3 linked regions of the Homo sapiens genome follow. The protein of the gene in region 1 interacts with the protein of each later gene in a pairwise test. Each region holds a gene or a part of one and is shown in the gene's direction. Other genes may lie near its edges.

Region 1 (7,341 bases):
AGCTGCTCCAAAAGCCCCTGCACCTTGTTTTCACATATCCATAGCAGATAAAGTTTAGAATATTTCTTTATTTTTACTTTTTTTGTGGAGACAGGGTCTTGCTATGTTGTCCAGGCTAGTCTCAAACTCCTGGTCCTCCCTCCTCAGCTTCTCAAAGCACTGGGATTATAGGCATGAGCCATCATGCCTGGCCAAGTTTAGGATAATTCTTAACCTGACTTGATCTATCCATAAACCTAACCCTAGGAAGATAGCAGTACCACCCCTCTGCCTGGCACCCCAAGTTTCCTCTATTCTGAATTGCTTCCCCTTCCCCTGGGACACATCATGCTTTCTTACAACTTGACGCTTCTGAACATCCTATTTCTTCCACTTGGAATGTCCTAACCTGTCTCGCCTAACTTGCAAATTCCCACGCGTCTTTAAAACCTCCACTGAAGCACAGCCCCTGCCAGACACCACTTAAGTGGAGCTCGTCCCTCTCTCCTGTGTGCTATCTCTGTGACTCCTATATGCCTTCTTTACCACTCTTTTCACTTCATTAAATGTCTGGTCTCCCGTACGGAACTGTGAACTTCCTAGTAGCAGTGACCAGAGCCAGGGATTATTTAACTGTGTAGCCCCATGTCTTAGTTTGTTAGGGCTACTATAACAAAATACTATAACCTGGGTAACTGTAACAAACAGAAATTTGTTTCTCACAGTTCTGGAGGCTGGAAAGTTCAAGAGCGTGGTGCTGGCAGATTTAGTGTCTGGTGAGGGCCTGTTTCCTTGTTCATAAATGGTGCCTGCTCTCTGTGTCCCCACATGGTGGAAAAGGCTACTAACTCTCTGCAGTCACTTGATCTAACCACCTCCTAATACCATCACATTGTGGGTTAGGATTTCAAAATATAAATTTGGGGCGTACACAAACATTCAGACCATAACATTCCACCAACGGTGCCAAAAATATGTTAGGTTCTTATAGCTTATTGCTTAATTGAATAAAAGAATGAGTTCCTGGACAGGTGTGGTGACTCACGCCTGTAATCCTAGCACTTTGGGAGGCCGAGGCAGGTGGATCACTTGAGGTCAGGAGTTGGAGACCAGCCTGGCCAACGTGGTGAAACCCCGTCTCTACAAAAAATACAAAAATTAGCTAGGCGTGTTGGTGGGCACCTGTAGTCCCAGCTACTCGGGAGGCTAAGGCAGGAGAACCACTTGAACCATGAGGCAGAGGTTGCAGTGAGCTGAGATTGTGCCACTGCACTCCAGCCTGGGCAACACAGTGAAATTCTGTCTCAAAAAAACAAAAACAAAACAAAACAAGAATGAGTTCCTAATAGATTGCCAGACTGAAGTGTAGTCTACTGCATTTGATGATTCATCATGTCTCCTAGGCCTAGCACATACTAAATTCTTTGTAAATGTTTCTGGGATAAGGGGATTAAATGAGTAAATGTGTTTTGAAACCAGCAATTTTTATGTTCATTTCCAATTTTCCTTGTGATCAGTACTTTGCCCAGTGAAAAATCAACTTTCTTCCTCAAGGCTCTATTCTGAGTTCTCCTGTTTCTCTCTACTCCTGCTAGATCCTGCCTACCTCCTTGTTATCTGAATCTGGATTTTAAACATATAGAACACACAGAGTTTTTACAATGGGTGAAAACCAAAGAGCAGTCTCTTGCTAACTGAATGAAGCTTTTAAGGAGGTTCCTATTTAAAATGAAATCTGCTCTGGTGGAGTTATGAAGATTAAACATGGTAATATTTGTGAAAGTGTTTTATAAAGAGATCAAAATATGTGTAATTATATGAGATAATTGATAATGATGCATTATGATAATAAAATTTGAGGGAAATAACTCCCCAAATTTACCCACTTCACTCTCCCCAAAGCCCCAGGAGTGTGTTTGTACAGCTTTTCTATTTAACATTCACTCAGGGAGATGTCAATATTTAATAGAATATTTAACAGAATGAGGAAAATCTAAGCAATGGTTAATAGTCACTTAGAGGTCAGTAAAAATTAATATAATTTTCAAAGATGTACCATTTATAATCAAAATAGCTATGGGGTAGGTCAACTGCAATATTTCCTTATGTTAAGCCACAAAAAATATACAAAATTGAAATTATATTTGTCATGATATAAAACAATATACTACAAAAAGTTCCCTATTGTCTTTTTCTTTCTTAAAGTTAATGATTGTGATCCTTTGTCAAAAAAAAAAAAAAAAAAGAATCAGTGCTCCTTTTCCTCATGTTAAATGAGTAAATTAATATTACTAATTTGGAAATCGTAAACTATGGCTTCCAGTAACTAGCATTTATTTTATTCATGAGAAAACAGTGGCATATTTAGCTTCTACTGAAGTATTGTACGAATAACTTAAGCAAAAAGGGGTGTCATATTATATTAAAATTGATTTTTTTGTTTCATTTTTTTATTTGAACATCAGTTGTATGGAGTACTCATTTTAAAAAGGAAAATGGTATGAAAATAATTGTTTTGAAAGGAGAAAAAAGAGGTGTGAGCTTTCTTGAAAGTGTAAGGAAAGTAGTGTGATGGAAGTCATAGTGAAATCAGACTGGGAGTCAGAAAACCGGTTCTAGTGTCATCTCTGCTACTTAGTAGCCCTTTTCTTTTAGTCGATTCTAAACACTAAATATGCTTCCGCATGTGGATTTAAATGTGATGGTCGCCAGTGACAAGCATAGGGGGATATTTCTTGCTAGGGTCAGTTCAGGTCATGATTCCTCTAAAGGCATATTATTGGATTATTTTACTGTGGGTCTACTTTATTAGGAGAAGGCCCCGAAAGGGTGTTTTGTTTTGTTTTGTTTTGTTTTGTTTTGTTTGGAGGGACGTAATACTAGGGAAAATTCTTTTTGTCACAGGTTCCCTCTCCCAGTGACCCTAACTTGGAGGCCTCTTTAGGAGTCCCAGAGACTCTGAGAGGGTCACACTGTACCTTGAAACAGTTTTTGGCGTTTGTATAAAGCTGCGGATGCGCTCTGTAGGAGGTTGCTATGACAATTTGCAAACAGTAGAGTGGATGAAACTCCGCAGGAGGTGGCTCCCTTCCGACTGGAGTCTGCACTAGTTCGGGCCTGCACAGTAGGTCCAGCCAGGAGCCAGAGATACTCGGGCGGGGCAGAGCATAATGGACCCCTGGCCCCAAGAGAACTTCAGAAACTAGGCACCTCTCGAGAAGGAAGTGCATGGCATAACTCTGCCCCGTCATCCGGGATTTGTCGGGCTTTCCCACCCCACCTCCTCTCACAGTTGAAGTGGCAAAACCTGTGACCTTTGAACAGAGGCGCACTGTGTGCCACGCACGACGAGGCGCGGATGTGAGACGGGAAAGCAATTTTTTTTTGGTCTTCAAGGAAAAGAGAGGTTGTATATGGCGAATAAAAAAGGCAGGGAAATTCTCCACGTGTCTTGGAAGGGAAGGGGGAAAGAGATGTGTCGGGTGGGGTGAGAGGAATTCGAGGTGTCGCTCCCTCACCGCAGAGCTGAAAGGAAGGTGTGTCTCTCCCAGTGGCCGCGCAGGGGAAAGGCTCGGAGTTGTAAGGAAATAGGAGATGTCTCTGATGTTTATTTTTGCCTAGCAACCCACAGCCAACTGCTTCCCCAGCTGCCGTCCACACGCGCCTCTCTGCCTCCCCTTGTCCTAGCGACTGGCGAGCGGTCACTTGGTGTCAGTAAACCGGGGAGGGTGTGTGGTGGAGGTGGGAGGGCAGCCCCCTCTTTCGCCCCTGCTCAGGGTCAACGAGCTCAGCGGCCGCCCCTCCCGGGACTTGCCTCTCCGAGGTGACCCTCGCACAACTAAGTTATCTACATGATGAATTGGGGAGAGGGGAGTGGCTAAGTCGCTGGGACCAAGAATGGGGGGACGGGGAAGCAGTACTGTCTGTGAGCAGCCATTCAGTTCGAAGAGCTGAAAATGCATTTATGTTTAGGGGTGCGCATGGCAGGGGAGGGGTCTCTGCGGCGCTTTCGGCCGGAGGGCAGCAGCGGTAGGTTGAGCTGTAGGGCAGAGAAGGGGCGCCGCGGGGCCGGGGAGGGGAAAAGGTCGCCGGAGTGGAGCCGAGGGAAGCAGTGCAGATGGCCGGAGGGGGCGGAGGAGGGCGAGCGGAGGCCGCCGAGTTTTCCGGGGAGCGGAGGGGCGGCTGCGCGCAAACCGGGGGACTGAGAGGAGCCGGGCGGGAGGTTGGGTGGGGGTGGGGTGTGCGTGGCCGCGGCCGGGGGAGCCGGGGGCGGGGCCTGCGGCGGCGGAGGAGGGCGGCGGAGGGCGGCGGGGGCGGGGCCGCGCGCCGGCGCCTGTGTGTGAGTGCGCGGGGGCGCGCGCGCGCGGGCCCGGGAGAGGCTCCCGAGCCAGGCGGTCTTCGGTCCTCGCAGCGCTTCCAGCTCCCCGCGCCCCTATGTGAGGGAGACGGGGAGGCCCGCGGCGCGCAGGGGAGGGCGAGGCATGTGCACGGGCCGGAGGGTGCTGCAGCCGCCCGAGGAAGAGGAGGACGGCGGCGAGGAGGAGAGCGGGGGGCTCGCGGCGGCGGGCCCCGGCCGAGGGGATGCAGTGGACTGTGTGTGTCTGGCTGTAGCAGACGCGAGGCGGCGACGAGGCGCCGGGGACCCGCGCGAGGGGCGGCCGGGAGGCGGCGGCGGCGGCCGCCAGAAGTAGCAGCAGGACCGGCGGCGGCGACGGCAGCCCTGAAATGCATTTTCCTCTCCAGCGGCCATGTTAACCAGGAAACCTTCGGCCGCCGCTCCCGCCGCCTACCCGACCGGTAAGGAGGCCGTGCCGCCGCGCCGCATCCCCGGACCCCCGCCGGCCCTGGGCAGCCCCTGTGGCGCGGGCGGCCGCTGCCTGCGGGACCTCGAACAAAGTCGGCGGCGCGGCGCGGGGGAGCCCCCGGGCGGACGACGCGCCCCGGGCTCCATGCAGGGTTGTGCGCGGCCCCGAAGGCCCCTCCGCGGGGAGCCCTCGGCCCGAAGAGGCTTCTGCCTGCCGGGGGCCCGGGCGGGGACCGTCCAGGCCTGCCGCCCCGCCCTGCGCTGCCCGGGGCTTGGCGTGGCCGTGGCTCCCTGCTCAGCTGTCCAAACCCACCTCCCGGCTGCTGGCCGTCTGCAACGTGGGCCGCCTAGCCCCGGCGCGGCCCGGCTCCCCCGCCGGGTCGCGAACTCGCGCGCCAGGGCCCCACTTAACTTTGCAGCTGCCCGCGCCCCGCCCGTGGGTGTGCGCTGGGGAGCCGTGACCCGAACGCCCGTTTTTACTGCCCCGGTCTCTTCCTCCGTCTTTCTTTGGAAGAGGGTTGTCGCTGCCCAGCGGGGTTGGAGGGGGGGTCTGGGTGACTTTCTCCCCCCTGACCCTCTTTTGTCTCCTCCCGCACGTGGCTTCCAGGCCGAGGTGGGGACAGCGCCGTTCGTCAGCTTCAGGCTTCCCCGGGGCTCGGTGCAGGGGCCACCCGGAGCGGAGTGGGGACTGGCCCGCCCTCCCCCATCGCCCTGCCGCCTCTCCGGGCCAGCAACGCTGCCGCCGCAGCCCACACGGTGAGACCCAGCCCGCGGGCGGCCCGGGCGGTGGGGGCGGGAGGGGCCCCAGGCCGAAGCACCCGGACTTGGAGGGGTCTGACGCCGGGAGAAGAGGGGTCGAGATACAAGCAGCCCCACGCCTCGGGCCGATGGTCTCTCGTCGACGCCGCCCTGGTTAAGTTGGGCGAGCCCAAAGCTGCAGCCACAAAGGAAGATTCGTGGCGTGGGCCCCTTACTTCCCCTCCAGAGCTCGCCCACCCATGACCTCCTCTTCCTAGGAACTTCCTCCTTGCTGCTTTCCTTCTTTCCTCATTTTTCGTCCTTGCATCCCAGAGTTCCCTTCCCTGACCCGGTAAACATCTCTGTCCTTCCCCCACCTCCCCGTGGGTAGTGGGTATTTATAGAAACAGATACGTGTTAGGGGACAGCCAGACCGGCCTGCCCGGAAAATCGATCCCCCAAAGAGCCTCCCAGGCCTGGCTCCAGCCAGCAGGGAGCATCGCCAATTGTCCCCCGCGTGTGTAAGCATGTTTTATGAGTGCTACAGGTTTGAGCACAGCAGAAATTGTAATCAACATTAACAAAAATAAGGGCCGCCGCAGCAGTCAAAACAAGCCACCCCTGTAGGATTCTGCAGTTGGACATTATTCAAAAGGAAAGGGCAAGCGTTGCTTTGGAGGTGGGAAAGAAAAAGCACCTAACAGGTGCTGTGGTCTCTGGGAGGGGAGAGGCCAGCGTGGGACTGGTTGCTGGTGGCTGCGGAGACTGGCAAGCTGGATTCGACTAAAGCATGTACCTTTTCTCAGCTCCCAGGGATCACCCTTGGATGGTGATGGCCAGCCTGGAGGAGGTCTGCACTTGGAGGAGGTGATGGTTTGGAGGTCTTTTTTTCCCAATTGGATTTTCCACAGGAACAGCCTAAGATGGTTCTGTGTGAGGGAGGCTTGCTAGGGATTGGTTTTATTTGCTAAGTGAAAGTTGAGTTCTTGAAGAAAAGGCCATCTCCGGTCTACAGGGGAGTAGCTCTGGGGACATATGTTATGGGGAAACTTGTTTGTCAGAGAACTGTGAGGGGATGTCTAGACTGTAGTTGCACCTGTTAGACTTGGAGAGATGTGTGCAAGTTTCGTAGGAAAATGTTTTGTTGCTGTTACTATCTTCCCCCTCCCTCTGTCTGTCTCTCTATCCTGACACATCTGGTCCCAGGGGCTGGGAATTCATTGCACAGAGGTTAACTAACCTGTGTTGGACTGTGGATGGTATAGTAGGATGGATGATTCTGTATATTACTGTTAAGTGTTCTTGTCACAGTGATATTTAAGGGACTGCCATTGATTTTAGGGGTTTGGATTTTTTTGTTTGGGATCATCTGACAATTTGGAAAATATAATACCCAGTTTTTTGCTATGTGTTGATGTAATCACATGACATGGTGTGAGCTGGAAAAAGAACTATTTGGTTTGCATGTGGATTCCAATTTTGTAAGGATGGGCTTTGCTTGATCAGAGCCTCTTTGCAATTGAAATACATGTAATGAAAGTAGATGAAACGACAAGTCTCCACTGGAGGGAGAGCCTGTGGTGCACCAGAAAAGGAAGGATGCGAATGTGCTTCTCAGTACTCCTCATAATGGAGGCCTGTATTTTGCTGTGGCATATGCCAGATTTACTTGTTTTTAACGTGTGTGTAAACTTCGGTATGCTGTTAATTATTAGATGCTTGACTTTGAAGGTGTGAATTTGGGTTTCGATGGTGGTTTAGTTTTGATTTTATTTCTATAACATAGCAGATTTCATAGTACAGGAAAGGTTACAAGGACC
Region 2 (7,905 bases), on another chromosome or scaffold:
CCCGTCTCTACTAAAAATACAAAAAATTAGCCGGGCATGGTGGTGGGCGCCTATAATCCCAGCTACTCAGGAGGCTGAGGCAGGAGAATTGCTTGAACCTGGGAGGCAGGGTTGCAGTGAGCCGAGATGGCGCCATTGCACTCCAGCCCAGGCAACAACAGCGAGACTCTGTCTCAAAAAAAGAAAAGGCATCCTCATCTCCGTATGAATTCATGGTTTGTATTTATTTTTTATTTTTTGAGACAGGGTCTTGCTCTGTTGCCTGACTGGAGTGCAGAGGTGCAATCACGGCTCACTGCAGCCTCCACCTTTGGGACTCGGGTGATCTCACCTCGGCCTCCTGAGTAGCTGGGACTACAGGCATGCGCCACCACGCCCAGCTAATGTTTTTGTTTTTGTTTTTGTTGTTGTTTTGAGACAGAGTCTCACTTTGTCACCCAGGCTGGAGTGCAATGGCGCGATCTCAGCTCACTGCAAACTCCGCCTCCTGGGTTCAAGTGATTCTCCTGCCCAGCCTTGTGTGTAGCTGGGATTGCAGGCACGTACCACCATGCCTGGCTAATTTTTGTATTTTTAGTAGAGACGAGGTTTCACCATGTTGGCCAGGCTGGTCTCAAACCCCTGACCTCATGATCCACCTGCCTCGGCCTCCCAAAGTCCTGGGATTACAGGCTTGAGCCACTGCACCTGGCCACTGAGCCACCGCGCCTGGCCACTTGTTTTGTTTTTTGAGACAGAGTCTCACTCTATCACCCAGCTGGAGTGCAACGGCACGATCTCGGCTCACCGCAACCTCAGCCACCTGGGTTCAAGCGATTCTCTTGCCTCAGCCTTCCAAGTAGTTGGGATAACAGGCATGCGCCACCTCGCCCAGCTAATTTTTGTGTTTTTAGTAGAGACAGGGTTTCGTCATGTTGGCCAGGCTGGTCTCAAACTCCTGACCCCAGGTGATCTGCCCCCCTCAGCCTCCCAAAATGCTAGGATTACAGGAGTGCACCTGGCCATGTTTGTATTTTTTGTAGAGACAGACTTTTGCCATGTTGCCCAGGCTGGTCTCAAACTCCTGAGTTCAACTGATCTGCCCGCCTCGGCCTCCCAAAGTGCTAGGATTACAGGCATGAACCACTGCACCCAGCTTCATGATTTGTATTTATTTGGAGAATGGGTCTCTGTCACCCAGGCTGGAGTGCAGTGGCTTGATCACAGCTCACTGCAGCCTCAAACTCCTGGGTTTAAGTGATCCTCCCACCTCATCCTTCTGAGTAGCTGAGATTACAGGTTTGTGCCACCACGCCTGGCTTATTGTTTAGCTGTGCCTGCTGACGGGTACCTCTAGAAGCAGTGACACCCCAGCAGCAATGAGCACACACAGCACCCAGATCTTAGTTTAATTTTTTTTTTTTGAAGACAGAGTCTCACTCTGTCCCGCAGGCCGGAGTGCAGTGGCGCAATCTCAGCTCATTGCAACCTCTGCCTCCCTGGTTCAAGCCATTCTCCTGCCTCAGCCTCCCTAGTAACTGGGATTACAGGCACACGCTGCCACACCCGGCTAACTTTTTGTGTTTTAGTAGAGACAGGGTTTCACTGTGTTGCCCAGGCTGGTCACGAACTCCTGAGCTCAGGCAATCTGCCTGCCTTGGCTTCCCAAAGTGTTAGGATTACAGGCATGAGCCACCGTGCCCGGCCTTTTTTTTTTTTTTTTTTTTTTGAGATGGAGTCTTGCTCTGTTGCCCAGGCTGGAGTGCAGTGGCGTGTTCTTGGCTCACTGCAACCTCTGTCTCCTGGGTTCAAGCAATTCTCCTGCCTCAGGCTCCCGAGTAGCTAGGACTACAGGTGTGCACCACAATGCCCAGCTAATTGTGTGTGTGTGGTGTGTGTGTGTGTGTGTGTGTGTGTTTTAGTAGGGACGGGGTTTCACCATGCTGGCCAGGCTGGTCTCAAACTCCTTACCTCAGGTAATCTGCCCGCCTCGGCCTCCCAGAATGCCGGGATTACAGGCATGAGCCACAGCACCCGGCTAATTTCTTTCTTTCTTTCCCTTCTTTCCCTCCCTCCCTCCCTTCCTTTCTTTCCTTCTTTCTTTTTTTTTTTTTTTTTTGAGATGGAGTTTCGCTCTTGTTGCCCAGGCTGGAGTGCAGTGGTGTGATCTCGGATCACTGCAACCTCTGTCTCCCAGGTTCAAACGATTCTCCTGCCTCAGCCTCCCAAGTAGCTAGGATTACAGGGATGTGCCACCATGCCTGGCTAATTTTGTATTTTTAGTAAAGACAGGGTTACTCCATGTTGGTCAGGCTGGTCTCGAACTCCCGACCTCAGGTGATCTGCCCACCTCAGCCTCCCAAAGTGCTGGGATTACAGGAGTGAGCCACTACACCCGGCCTCTTTCTTTTTTGTTTTGAGACAGAGTTTCGCTCTTGTTGCCCAGGCTGGAGTGCAGTGGGTGATCTCAGCTCACTGCAACCTCTGCCTCCCAGTTCCAAGTGATTCTCCAGTGTCTCGAGTAACTGGGATTACAGGTGCCCACCACCATGCCTGGCTAATTTTTTTGTGTTTTTAATAGAGATGGGGGGGTTTCATCATGTTGGCCCAGGTGGTCTCGAACTCCTGACTTCCTGATCTGCCCACCTCAGCTTCCCACAGTGCTGGGATTACAGGCGTGAATCACTGAGCCCCGACTGATCTTGGTTTCTAAATCCTACTCTTGAAGCAAAGGAACCAGGTTCCTTGGAGAAATGGCTGATTCCAGGGATTTTACACAGCATTGGATCATGTTGTGGAGCCCAAGATAAATAATGCTCAGAGAATGGTGGCGACATATTAAAAGGACACAGGAGCTTATTTATTATTTATTTATTTATTTATTGAGACGGAGTCTTGCTCTGTCGCCCAGGCTGGAGTGCAGTGGCTCGATCTCTGCTCACTGCAAGCTTCGCCTCCCGGGTTTGCACCATTCTCCTGCCTCAGCCTCCCGAGTAGCTAGGACCACAGGCACCTGCCACCACGCCTGGCTAATTTTTTGTATTTTTAGTAGAGATAGGGTTTCACCATGTTAGCCAGGATGGTCTCAATCTCCTGACCTCATGATCCGCCCGCCTCGGCCTCCCAAAGTGCTGGGATTACAGGCGTGAGCCACTGCACCCAGCCAGGAGCTAATTTAAAGGGGCAGGAAAGGAAATAATTATAATTATAATGATGTGGATTTATTAATCCACATCAGTTTATAGCGATTTTTGTTGTTGTTGTTGTTGTTGCTTTTTGAGACAAAGTCTCATTCTGTCACCCAGGCTGGAGTGCAGTGGCACAATCTCGGCTCACTGCAATCTCCGCCTCCCAGGTTCAAGAGATTCTCATGCCTCATCCTCCTGAGTAGCTATGATTATAGCACCTGCCACCACGCCAGGCTAATTTTTTTTTTTTTTTTTTGGATTTTTAGTAGAGACGGGGTTTCACCATGTTGGCCAGTCTGGTCTCAAACTCCCGACCTCAGGTGATCCACACGCCTGGCATCCCAAAGTGCTGGGGTTACAGGCGTGAGCCACTGCGCCGGGCCTGTTTGTTTTTTGAGACTGGGTCTCACTCTGTTGCCCAGGCTGGAGTGGGGTCTTCGTTCACTGCAACTTCTGCCTCCTGGCCTCAAACGATACTCCTACCTCAGCCTCTTGAGAAACTGGGACCACAGGCTCGGGCCACAGGCCCGTTTTTTTTTTTTTTTCCAATTGTAGCTGTGAGGCATTTTATTACAAAAACTTGGTACTCGTATACACAAACTAACATGAACTTAAAATACATTTTCTTCATTTTTTAGCTTGACCTTCTTTTTTTTTTTTGAGACGTGGTCTTGCTCTATCGCCCAAGCTGGAGTGCAGTGGTGCGATCTTGGCTTACTGCAGCCTCTGCCTCCTGGGTTCAAGCGATTCTCCTGCCTCAGCCTCCTGAGTAGCTGGGATTACAGGCTCCCGCCACCACTCCCGACTAATTTTTTTTATTTTTAGTAGAGACAAGGTTTCACCATGTTGGTCAGGCTGGTCTCGAACTCCTGATCTCGTGATCCGCCCGCCTCGGCCTCCCAAAGTGCTCGGATTACAATGACAGGATGTGAGCCACCGCGCCCAGCCTGTAAACCCTTTTGAAAAAATTCCCCAGCGCATTACTCCAAAACAACGTGGAAGTGTAAATGGAAACCAGGGCTGGGCGCGGTGGCTCATGCCTGTAATCCCAGCACTTTGGGAGGCCGAGGCGGGCAGATCACCTGAGGTCGGGAGATCGGGACCCGCCTGACCAACATGGAGAAACCCTGTCTCTACTAAAAACACAAAACTTGCCGGGCATGGTGGCACATGCCTGTAATTCCAGCTACTCCGGAAGGCTGAGGCAGATGAATCGCTTGAACCTGGGAAGCGGAGGTTGCGGTGAGCCGAGATCACGCCATTGTACTCCAGCCTGGGCAACAAGAGCGAAACTCTGTCTCAAAAAAAAAAAAAAAAAAAAAAAAAGGAAACTTGGACCAAAAAAATCAGCAAAAGTGGAGCAGGGATGTCTGAACACAGATGAGTCTAATTCCCTGCTTGGAAAGCAGGACACCTGAGTGTGGTTTGGCCTCTGACCACTGTAGCATTTACGACCTTGGGGAGGGTTACCACTCTGGGACCTCAGTCACACTATCTACAAAATGGGACACTTCTCTCAGCCTTCCTTCTTCCGGGCCGCTTTCAAGCCTGGGCTTCTGGAAATACGCAGGCGCGAGATGAATTGTTTGATTGGCTATTCATTGTGATGCACCCACGAGCTGAAGCTCCGTCTAAGCCCCGCCCTTTCCTGTCGTGACTTAACGCACGCAAGCGGCTCCAGGGTACGTCCCCGCCACGCGCGCTCGCAGGATCGGTGCGTGGTGACGTTTCGCCGGCGCGGGCGCCATCCCGGAAGCGCGAGCAAGGCCGCCAGATGTGCAGGTGCCGCCGCTACCGACGCCGGGGCCGAGTTTGGGGTGGGGCTGGGGACTCCAGGGCCGCGGGGAACCGGTCCGGGTCGGGCGCGGCCCCCGGGCTGCGGTGGGGTGGGGTGCGCCACTGGCCACATCTGGTCATTCCTGCTGCGCACAGGCCTCAGTTTCCCCGTCTGCTCAATGGATACGCAGGCGGCGCTACGGGCTGGATCTGGATCCGGATCAGGGGCATAGGAATTGGGGCCTCCTGTGTTCTGGGTGTGTCGTGTAACCTGGAGCTGGGCGTTGCCCGGTTTGTGCCTCAGTTTCCCTGTATTGTAGGGGACGGGGCGTGAGGGGATATTTGAGCCCCTCCCCACTTGGGGTTTTTCAGAGCTTGGATGGCTGAGTTAAATTCTGTTAAATAACCTGGATATAGAACCGTGGTGCTTCTCTGCCTCTCCCTGTGAGTTTCGGCAACGGAGCCCGCCCCTGTGAGCCTCAGTTTCACTCGGAGATGATTGTGTCTGCCTCGTAACGGTGATTGAGGATGAAATGAAGTGCTCTACAAGTGTTTGCCCGTAATATATTCTTAGAGGCCCCTGGGATGCTCTCAAAATGTTGATTCCCGGGACTTCTTCACACTCCTCTTGGAGAAACAGCCTGTCCTGAGCTCCAGTCGTTATCACCTTTGGTTTCAGTTGCCACAGACAGCACTGTGAGATCTTCATTCTACCTTATTTTCATTTTATGGTTGAAAAAACTGATTCAGAAGGGTGAAGTGGCTCTCCCATGGTCAAACAGCCTACCTCTCTGCGTTTCTTCAATAAATCTACATTTGGAGTTGGGATCAGAGCTCTTGCTGGGTCAATTTCACTGTGTATGTGGGCCAGACTAGCAGTAATCAGGGAAGGCTTCTTGGGAGAGGAAGTTGCGGGGGGACGGGAGGGAGGTGCCAGGAACCCCTCAGCCCTCACATCTGGGAGCCAGAGACAGAAAAGAGTCCTGTTTTGAAGGAGGAGTGTATCCCAGAAGGTCCCAGTACTGTGTCTCACTGGTACTAGCTATGGGCCTCCCTCTCCAGGTGTCTTTTTTTTTTTTTTTTTTTTTTTTTCAGTTGAGATGAAGTCTCCCTCTGTAGCCCACACTAGAATGCAGTGGCTTGATTTTGGCTCATTGCAACCTCTGCCTCCCGGGTTCAAGCGATTCTCCTGCCTCAGCCTCCTGAGTAGCTGGGACTACAGGTGCCCGCCATCATGCCTGGCTAATTTTTGTATTTTTAGTAGAGACGGGGGTTTCACCATGTTCACCAGGCTAGTCTTGAACTCATGACCTCAGGTGATCCACCAGCCTTGGCTTCCCAAAGTGCTGAGATTACAGGCATGAGCACCCGGTCCAGGTATCCTCTTTATACAAGATCATGCTTCTTTGGGAATGTGGAGACTGGGTGTCTCTGCATGGCATGTCATAGGAGTTCAATAACCATAGTTATTATTAGAGGGAAGGGGGTTTTGCTGGGTGTGGCACCTTATTTCTAGAAGGTGCTGCAAACCACTGACCAGATACAGATCACAAATAGATGCTCTTGGCCTCCATGATATCTTGGAAAAAAGTATTGATTGCTGACATTTGTCAATGAGGCAATTTCCCAGAAAAAAAAAATCCCTGTTTCCTTTTTCCTGGAGAAACATCAGAAGTCAGGCAGAAATCAGCTGCTGTAAGAAGCCACTGTCCTGTCACAGCTGGATATTGTGCACCTGTTCAGATTCACACCTTTGTGAGACCCGTGGGCTGTGGCCGTTTGTTGTGACTTAGGTTCACTGGCTGTGTGACAGTGGCCCAGTTTCTCAGTGTCCCTGAGCCTCAGTTTTCTCATCTATAAATAAGAATGATAACAGTATGTATGAGCTTGATGCTTTGTTTAGCATAGAGTAGCTGCTGAATAAATGGGAGAGTACATTAAGTGAGCTCTGAAACCCTTTCTTTCTCTTTCCTTTCTTTCTCTCTTTCTCTGTCTCTCTCTCTTTCTCTCCTCTCTCTTTCTCTCTTTGTCTCTCTCTCTTTCTCTCCTTCTCTCTCTCTTTCTCTCTCTCCCTTCCTTCCTTCCCTCCCTCCCTCCCTTCCTTCCTTCTTTTCGAGATGGAGTCTCACTCTGTCGCCCGGGCTGGAGTGTAGTGGCATGATCTCGGCTCATTGCAACCTCTGCCTCCCAGGTTCAAGCCATTCTCCTGCCTCAGCCATCCAAGTAGCTGCGACTACAGGTGCCCGCCACCATGCCCGGCTAATTTTTTTTGTATTTTTAGTAGAGACTGAGTTTCACTATGTTGGCCAGGCTGGTTTTGAACTCCTGACCTCAAGCAGTCTGCCCACCTCGGCCTCCCAAAGTGCTAGGATTACAGACGTGAGCCACCACACCCGGCCTCTGAAACCCTTTCTGATCCAGTAGAAGTTCGTCTCTGTTTCTTGGCTATTAAATGTGTGGGCCTCAGAGCCAAACTATATCAAGATCCTAGATTTTTCCTGAACTCCCTAGGAGGGTCAGTGCTGTAGCCCCTCCTACCCTGGCTGCTCCGGGAAGTCCCTGCCTGCCATTACGGTCATCTGTGTGCCAGCAAAACTGGGAACCTCAGAACCATCTGGATTGCTGGGGCCCACAGGTTGGCTGTGAGTACCTGCAATTCTTGGCTTTAATTTGCTAATAAAAGTGTCACGTCAGAGCTGAGTTTGAAAAGTTCTGTTGCCCTTCCCCACAACAACATTCTGGCAGCCCCTTGCTATGAGCCAGACTCCGGGTCGGGTTCTGGTGACAGACACACCTCTACTCCTTCTTTTTTTTTTTTGAGACGGAGTCTCTCTGTTGCCCAGGCTGGAGTGCAGTGGCACAGTCTTGGCTCACCACAACCTCCGCCTCCTGGGTTCAAGTGATTCTCCTGCCTCAAGCTCCCGAGTAGCTGGGACTAAAGGTGCCCACCACCATGCCTGGC
Region 3 (7,019 bases), on another chromosome or scaffold:
TGTCTCTCCTGTACAGCCCAAAGTGCTAGCTTTGGAGCCAGACTGCCTGGGTTTGTATATCAACATTGCCACTTGCAGATGTAGGATCTTGGGCCTCAGACTTCTTACCTGTAAAACAGGGGTGATAATAGAGCCTTCTTCGTGGCTTGTTGGGAGGATTCAAGTCTTTTATACATATAAAAGTACTAAGAGGCCGGGCACAGTGGCTCATGCCTGTAATCCTAGCACTTTGGGAGGCCGAGGCGGGTGTATCACCTGAGGTCAGGAGTTCGAGGCCAGCCTGGCCAACATGGTGAAACCCCATCTCTACTAAAAATACAAAAATTAGCCGGACATGGTGGCATGTGCCTGTAATCCTAGCTACTCAGGAGGCTGAGGCAGGAGAATTGCTTGAACCTGGAAGGCGGAGGTTGCAATGAGCCAAGATCTCACCACTGACTCCAGCCTGGGTGACAGAGCAAGACTCCATCTCAAAAACAAACAAAAAAAAGTACTTAGAAACTTATTCACAGGTCACCTTCTCACCGCGGCATTCGCCCCCTTCCCCTGTGCTCCTAACCTCCTTATCTGCTTTCTTCTCTCTTGCACCCATCATTACTTGGCATCTATTTCACATATTTGTTCTGCTCCTTTTCTATGTTCTACATACCCATCACCAGTAGAATGTGAGCCCCCCGAGGGCAGGGATTTGTCTCTTCCTCACCACTCTGTGCTTTTCACCTAGCGTTGTATTTGTCAAAGGAATGTTGAGAGAACAAGTGTTAGCTGCTGGTGGATGGCGTGGCCACAGAAGCTCAGTGTGGGTGTTGAATGTAGCAGGACCTGAATGGGTGGCCAAGGCGGCTGCACCATGTGGTGCTGGCTAGGGTGGGTGCCTCTGACTTGGGCTTTTTCTTTGCAGGTGTCACTCGAGAAGGTGCTTGGCATCACAGCCCAGAACAGCAGTGGCCTAACCTGTGACCCCGGCACAGGCCATGTGGCCTACCTGGCAGGGTAAGCAGATAAGGGCCTCGACGTCTAATCATTGCTAGGGAATTTGGAGCTTGGAACCTGAAGCCATCCGTAAATCGCTCTGAGCCTCATATTTTTCACCTGTAGAATGTGGAGAATGGGGCCTGCCTCTGAGAGCTGTGGAGAGGATTCCATAGCCCCCTCTCTGTCTAGAACAGTTCCTGGCATGTAGTGAGTGCAATGAAAGCCTTTATTATGACTACAGGGGGGAGGTGACAGCGATTCTGGGAAAGACAGGTGATTAAAGTCCACGCTGTGGTGTCAGGTAACCTGGATTTGTGTCCCAGCTCTGCCATGTATGCTGCTCTCTGAGCCTCTTCCTCTGCCTCTGTAAAACAGAGCTGGTGACCCCCTCTGCTTGCATAGTTGAGAAGACTGAAGAAGATGCTACAGCTGTTCATTCCATAAATACTCATGTAGCCTGGCACTGTGCTAAGGACGTCCCCTCTCTGGGTTTGTTTCCTTATCTATAAATGGGCCTAAATAGTCGTGACCTGACCTGGCAGTTGTGAGGATTTAAAACAATTACATCCCTCTTTCTCTCTTTTTGTTTTGTTTTGCTTTTTTGAGACAGAGTCTGGCTGTGTTGCCCAGGCTAGAATGCAATAGTGTGAATAACAGCTCACTACAGCCCCAACCTCCTGTGCTCAAGCGATCCTCCCATCTTCACCTCCCATGTAGCTGGGACTACAGGCACATGCCACCACAGCCAGCTAATTTTTTTTAGTGGAGATGAGATCTCACTCTGTCGCCCAGGCTGGTCTAAAACTCCTGAGCTCAAGTGATCCCTCCTGCCCCATACTCCCAAAGTGCTGGGATTATAGCCAGCTTAAGGTCTTAATTAGCCTAGGGCCTGACAGACATTACCTCAGAGGAAGTGTTGGTTTCTATTTAAGAACATAGCAATGTTAAAGTGCCCTAGAATTCTCAGCGTAAACACCTGGAGGAGGGGGAGGAGGAGGAGACCAGAGAGAACCGAGGGAGCTTGTTTATTTGTGGGCTTTTCTGGTGGGAATAGAATCATCCCAGGACCCCAACACTCCCCACAGTTGAGGCACATTTTCCTCTTTCTTCCCAGCTGTGTGGTGGTGATTTTGGACCCCAAGGAGAACAAGCAGCAGCACATCTTTAACACCGCCAGGTAGGCTGAGGCCTGGGCCCGGGGCAGGGGTGGAACCAGGGGCTTGGCACGCCTCCCCTCCCCTACACAGCCTGGAGATACTCATGGGTAGGTGCTCACTCATTCACTTACATGTTGGCTCAGCAGCATTCGCCTGTGCTGGGTGCTGTTCCGTGTGCTGGGGACACAGCAGTGACCAGAGGAGACGAGAATCTCTGCTGGCTAGAGCGAGACAGACTGTAAACTAGTCAGCAAATTACGGGCTGATCATGATCAGTGCTATGGAGGAAATGATGGAGGATGTCTTCGGGCAGGTTTGTGGGCAGAGAATAGGAGGAAAGCCTTATCAGAAGGCTCAGGGAACGCTGCCTTGACTCTGAGACCTGAAGGAAGCGAGAGGGTGACCCATAAGAAGCTGTAGGGAGAGCGCTTCAGGCAGGGGGCACAGGAAGGGCAAAGGCCCTGCAGTGGTTAAGAATCTCCGGCGCTTTAGAAGCAGCCAGGGATCTGGGTGCCTGGAGAAAGGAGCAGGGAAGATGAGGCTGGACCAGGCAGAAGCCACATCCCGTAGGCCTTGCAGCCTTGTAGAGGGTCTGCATAGCATGCTGAGTGCAGAGAGCAGCCACAGGAGGGCACCACAGGCCAGGAATGTGCTTTTCACCCCCAGCCCTCCAGCAGCTCTATTCCCTGCTTTGCTTTTCTCCACAAAATTTGCTCCCATCTCTGATATGCTGTCCAGTTTCCTCATTGATGGTATTCACTGTGGGTCTCCCTCAGTGTGAGCACTCTTGAGAGCAGGGACTTTCTCTGAGTTCATTTCTGTGTCCCTAGCACCAAAGAGCAGTATCTGGCATATTGATGGCTATTTTCTAAGAGAAAGACTTAACATGATTTGGGTTTTAGAAAGATCCCTTCAGCTATAAGTTTACTGGGGAAGGACCCGCTCCTCTGCCTTGGGGCTAACTGATCACTGCTACCCTGGGGATGTGGTCCCAATAGGGCTGTGACCTTTGGAAGGCACACCATGTCCCTCCTTGGCATAGCTCAGGCTCAGCTCCTTTGGCCCAGTTCTCCAGGTGGATGGATAAGGAGTGGGTTTTCTCCTGCCCTTATGGTCCCTAAGGTACGGTCCTTAAGCTACGGCAGGTTCTTGTTATCTGACAGAAGTGCATTCCCTCTTGAAAGTGGCTTTTTGGACCTTTTGCTCCTAACTGTGGGTTCTGTTACTGGTGATAAGGGCAGAGCTGGGTTCCATTCCTGGCTCAAGCGTCTATTCACTGTGGAATCTCAGGTGAGACACTTCTTTCAGAGCCTTGGTCTCCTCTGAAAATAAAATAGCTGCCTCCAACTGGGAGAGCATTCATAAGGCAGCAGCTACAAACCAGAGTCACACACACTTGCCCAATATAGTATGTTTTAAAGGTTGGATAAGTGGACAACATTTCAAGTTTTTTAACACAAAAATCCAAATGTCCCTTTTGTTTGGAGAAGTGAGAAATTCTCTGGCCTCTGGGGCCCAAATTCCCCTGTGGCAGTGAGGGGCTGAGCTTAGTGAAATTTGTCAGGCCCGTTGTGGCCAGTTCCTCACACCTGTGTTGCCTCCCTAATCCCTGTAGGCAGTGGAGTGGGTGGCCTGGATCTATAGTAGATGGTATGCAGGTGTCCGCCCTTGGCCACCAGTGGGTGTGCATTAGGAGGTGGTGTGGCCAGTGTGGGGATTTTCACTCCAACTGCATATCAGAATCACCTGGTCCCTGTGCCTCACCGCCCCCCCACCGCCACGCAAGAGAAAGCCAAATCAGTTGATCTGGGATGAAACTTGGGCATTGGCAATTTTGAGACTTTTTATATTGAAATAATTTCAGACTTAGAATAGTACAAAGAGCTCCTATATACCTATGTACCTTTCACATATTTCACAAATGTTAGCTTTTTTTTCTTTTTTTTTTTTGGACACAGAGTCTTGCTCTGTCACCCAGGCTGCTGGAGTGCAGTGGCACAGTCTCAGCTCACTGCAACTTCCACCTCCCGGGTTCAGGTGATTCTCATGCCTCAGCCCCCCAGGTGGCTGGGACCACAGGCATGTGCCACCATGCCCAGCTAGTTTTTTGTGTTTTAGTGGAGACGGGGTTCATCATGTTGCCCAAGGTGGTCTTGAACTCCTGAGCTTAGACAGTCTGCCTGCCTCAGCCTCCCAAAGTGCTAGGATTACAGGTGCGAGCCACTGCACTTGGCCAAATGTTAGCATTTTACCACATTTGCTTTATCATTTTTTGTCTATATACATATTAATTTGTTCTGAACTATTTGAGAATCAGTTGTAGACATGATGCCCCTATATCTCTAAATACTTCACGCCAGGCATGGTGATTCACGCCTGTAATCTCAGCACTGTGGGAGGCCTTGGAGGCAGGAAGATCATTTGAGGTCAGGAGTTTGAGACCAGCCTGGGGAACATGGCAAAACCCTGTCTCTACTAAAAATACAAAAATTAGCCAGGCCTGGTGGCAGGCGCCTGTAATCCCAGCTACTCGGGAGGCTGAGGCAGGAGAATCGCTTGAACCCGGGAGGCAGAGGTTGCAGTGAGCCAAGATCATGCCACTGCACTCCAGCCTGGGTGACAGAGCAAGAGTCCGTCTCAAAAAAAAAAAAAAAAAAAAAAAAAACTTAATCAAATAAATACTTCAGTGTGTATTTCCTACAAAAAAAAATGACAATCTTTTTAAACTGTAATACATCCAGCAAAATCAGGAAATGAAAATTGATATATCACTCTCATCCACTCCCCAGAGGGCACCATTCAGGAGTCAGCCTTTGTCCCATGAATGTCCTTTATGGCCAAAGGATTCTGTCTAGAATCACACATTGCATTGAGTTGTCCCCTCAGTCTCTTTCAGGCTGACGTGGCTCCTCTGTCTTTTCTTGACTTTCAGGATCTTGACATTTTTTTTTTTCTTTTTGAGATGGAGTCTCTGTCGTCAGGCTGGAGTGCAGTGGTGGGATCCTGGCTCACTGCAACCTGACTCCCCAGTTCAAGTGATTCTCCTGCCTCAGCCTCCCGAGTAGCTAGGATTACAGGCATATGCCACCATGTCCGGCTAATTTTTGTATTTTTAGTAGAGCTGGGGTTTCCCCATGTTGGCCAGGATGGTCTCGATCTCCTGACCTTGTGATCCGCCCGCCTTGGCCTCCCAAAGTGCTGGGATTACAGGCGTGAGCCACAGCACCTGGCCACTTTTTTTTGTTTTTTTGTTTTTTGAGACGAAGTCTCACACTGTCGCCCGGGCTGGAGTGCAGTGGGGCGATCTTGGCTCGCTGCAGCCTCCACCTCCTGGGTTCAAGCGATTCTCTGCCTCAGCCTCCTGAGTAGCTGGGACTACAGGCATGCGCCACCGTGCCTGGCTAATTTTTGTATTTTTTTTTAGTAGAGACGGGGTTTCACTATGTTGGTCAGGCTGGTCACGAACTCCTGACCTCGTGATCCACCCGCCTCGGCCTCCCAAAGTGCTGGGATTACAGGCTTGAGCCACTGCACCCGGCCAATCTTGACACTGAGGATTGTAGACGAGGTATTTTGTAGAGTGTCCCAGCATTTGGGTTTGTCCAATGCCTCCTCACGGGCAGACTCAGGTTCTGCATCTTTGGCAGGAACAGACCAGAAGGGGTGCTGTGTTCTTCCTGGTGCCTCCTCTCAGGAGGTCTCCTATGACTGGTGGTGTTCACTGGGAGCACTTGGCCAAGGTGTTGCCTGCCAGATTCCTCCACTTCAAAGCCTCTCTTTTCACCTTTGTGATTAGCAGGTATCCTGGGGACATCTTTCCTGAGACAGTGCAAATATTATCTTGTTCCTCACCAAACTTTCACTCAACTAATCTTAGGCTTTGACACTTTTCAGATGCTCCCCAGGGAAATCTAATGTACAGCCAGGACTGAGAACTACTGGCTTAGAGGTCAGGGCTCTGCCCTGTCTGGTTAGGTAACTGCAGGCAGGGGACTTCCTTGTGTTGCAGTCACCTCATCTGCCAAGTTGGTTCATGAGAGCCCTGACTCCATGAAGCATGCTTGAGGAATCAGTGCACTGATGGCCAGACAGCATTTGCCAGAGGGCCAGGCACAAGGTCAGGGCATGCGACAGGTTAGAGGTGGCTACGGGCAACAGAAACCCCTCCACAGCATGGCTTAAAACCCAAGAGCATGCTCTTCCTGCATGTCATAAGTCCAGAGGTGGGCAGCCCAGGGGCTGTGTCTCTGAACGCCACATTTTTTTTTTCTGTCTCTCTTTTTGAGACAGAGTCTCACTCTGTTGCCCAGGCTGGAGTGCAGTGGCGCGATCTTGGCTCACTGCAAGCTCCGCCTCCTGGGTTCACACCATTCTCCTGCCTCAGCCTCCCAAGTAGCTGGGACTACAGGCGCCCACCACCACGCCTGGCTAATTTTGTTTTTGTATTTTTAGTATAGACAGGGTTTCACCGTGTTAGCCAGGGTGGTCTCGATCTCCTGACCTTGTGATCTGCCCACCTCAGCCTCCCAAAGTGCTGGGATTACAGGCGTGAGCCACCGCGCCCAGCCCCACTTCTTTTTTTCTCTAGACGGAGTCTTGGTCTGTTGCCCAGGCTGGAGTGCAGCAGCACGATCTTGGCTTGCTGCAACCTCTGCCTCCCGGGTTCAAGCAATTCTCCTGCCTCAGCCTCCCGAGTAGCCGGGATTACAGGCTCCTGCCACCACACCTGGCTATTTTTTGTATTTTTAGTAGAGGTGGGGTTTTGTCGTGTTGGCCAGGCTGTTCGCGAATTCCTGACCTCAAGTGAACCACCCACCCCTCTGCCTCCCAAAGTGCTGGGATTACAGGCGTGAGGCACCGCACCCGGCCCCCATTCCTTCTCTCCTG

What was found. The genes of interacting proteins can lie anywhere in the genome.
Region 2: the proteins of DYRK2 (region 1) and KXD1 interact in binary tests that used the Homo sapiens proteins (3 or more experiments, as listed by UniProt).
Region 3: the proteins of DYRK2 (region 1) and WDR62 interact in binary tests that used the Homo sapiens proteins (3 or more experiments, as listed by UniProt).

What each region holds. Positions count from the first base shown.
Region 1 is NC_000012.12:67,644,407-67,651,747, forward strand, and holds the start of DYRK2 (dual specificity tyrosine-phosphorylation-regulated kinase 2), read left to right. Parts: upstream 1-4,338; 5' UTR 4,339-4,727; coding exon 4,728-4,776; intron 4,777-5,390; coding exon 5,391-5,539; exon of another isoform or gene 5,540-6,388; intron 6,389-7,341. UniProt on the Homo sapiens protein: Serine/threonine-protein kinase involved in the regulation of the mitotic cell cycle, cell proliferation, apoptosis, organization of the cytoskeleton and neurite outgrowth. Functions in part via its role in ubiquitin-dependent proteasomal protein degradation.
Region 2 is NC_000019.10:18,552,966-18,560,870, forward strand, and holds the start of KXD1 (kxDL motif-containing protein 1), read left to right. Parts: upstream 1-4,904; 5' UTR 4,905-4,949; exon of another isoform or gene 4,950-7,585; intron 7,586-7,905.
Region 3 is NC_000019.10:36,057,879-36,064,897, forward strand, and holds part of WDR62 (WD repeat-containing protein 62), read left to right. Parts: intron 1-901; coding exon 902-993; intron 994-2,089; coding exon 2,090-2,152; intron 2,153-7,019. UniProt on the Homo sapiens protein: Required for cerebral cortical development. Plays a role in neuronal proliferation and migration.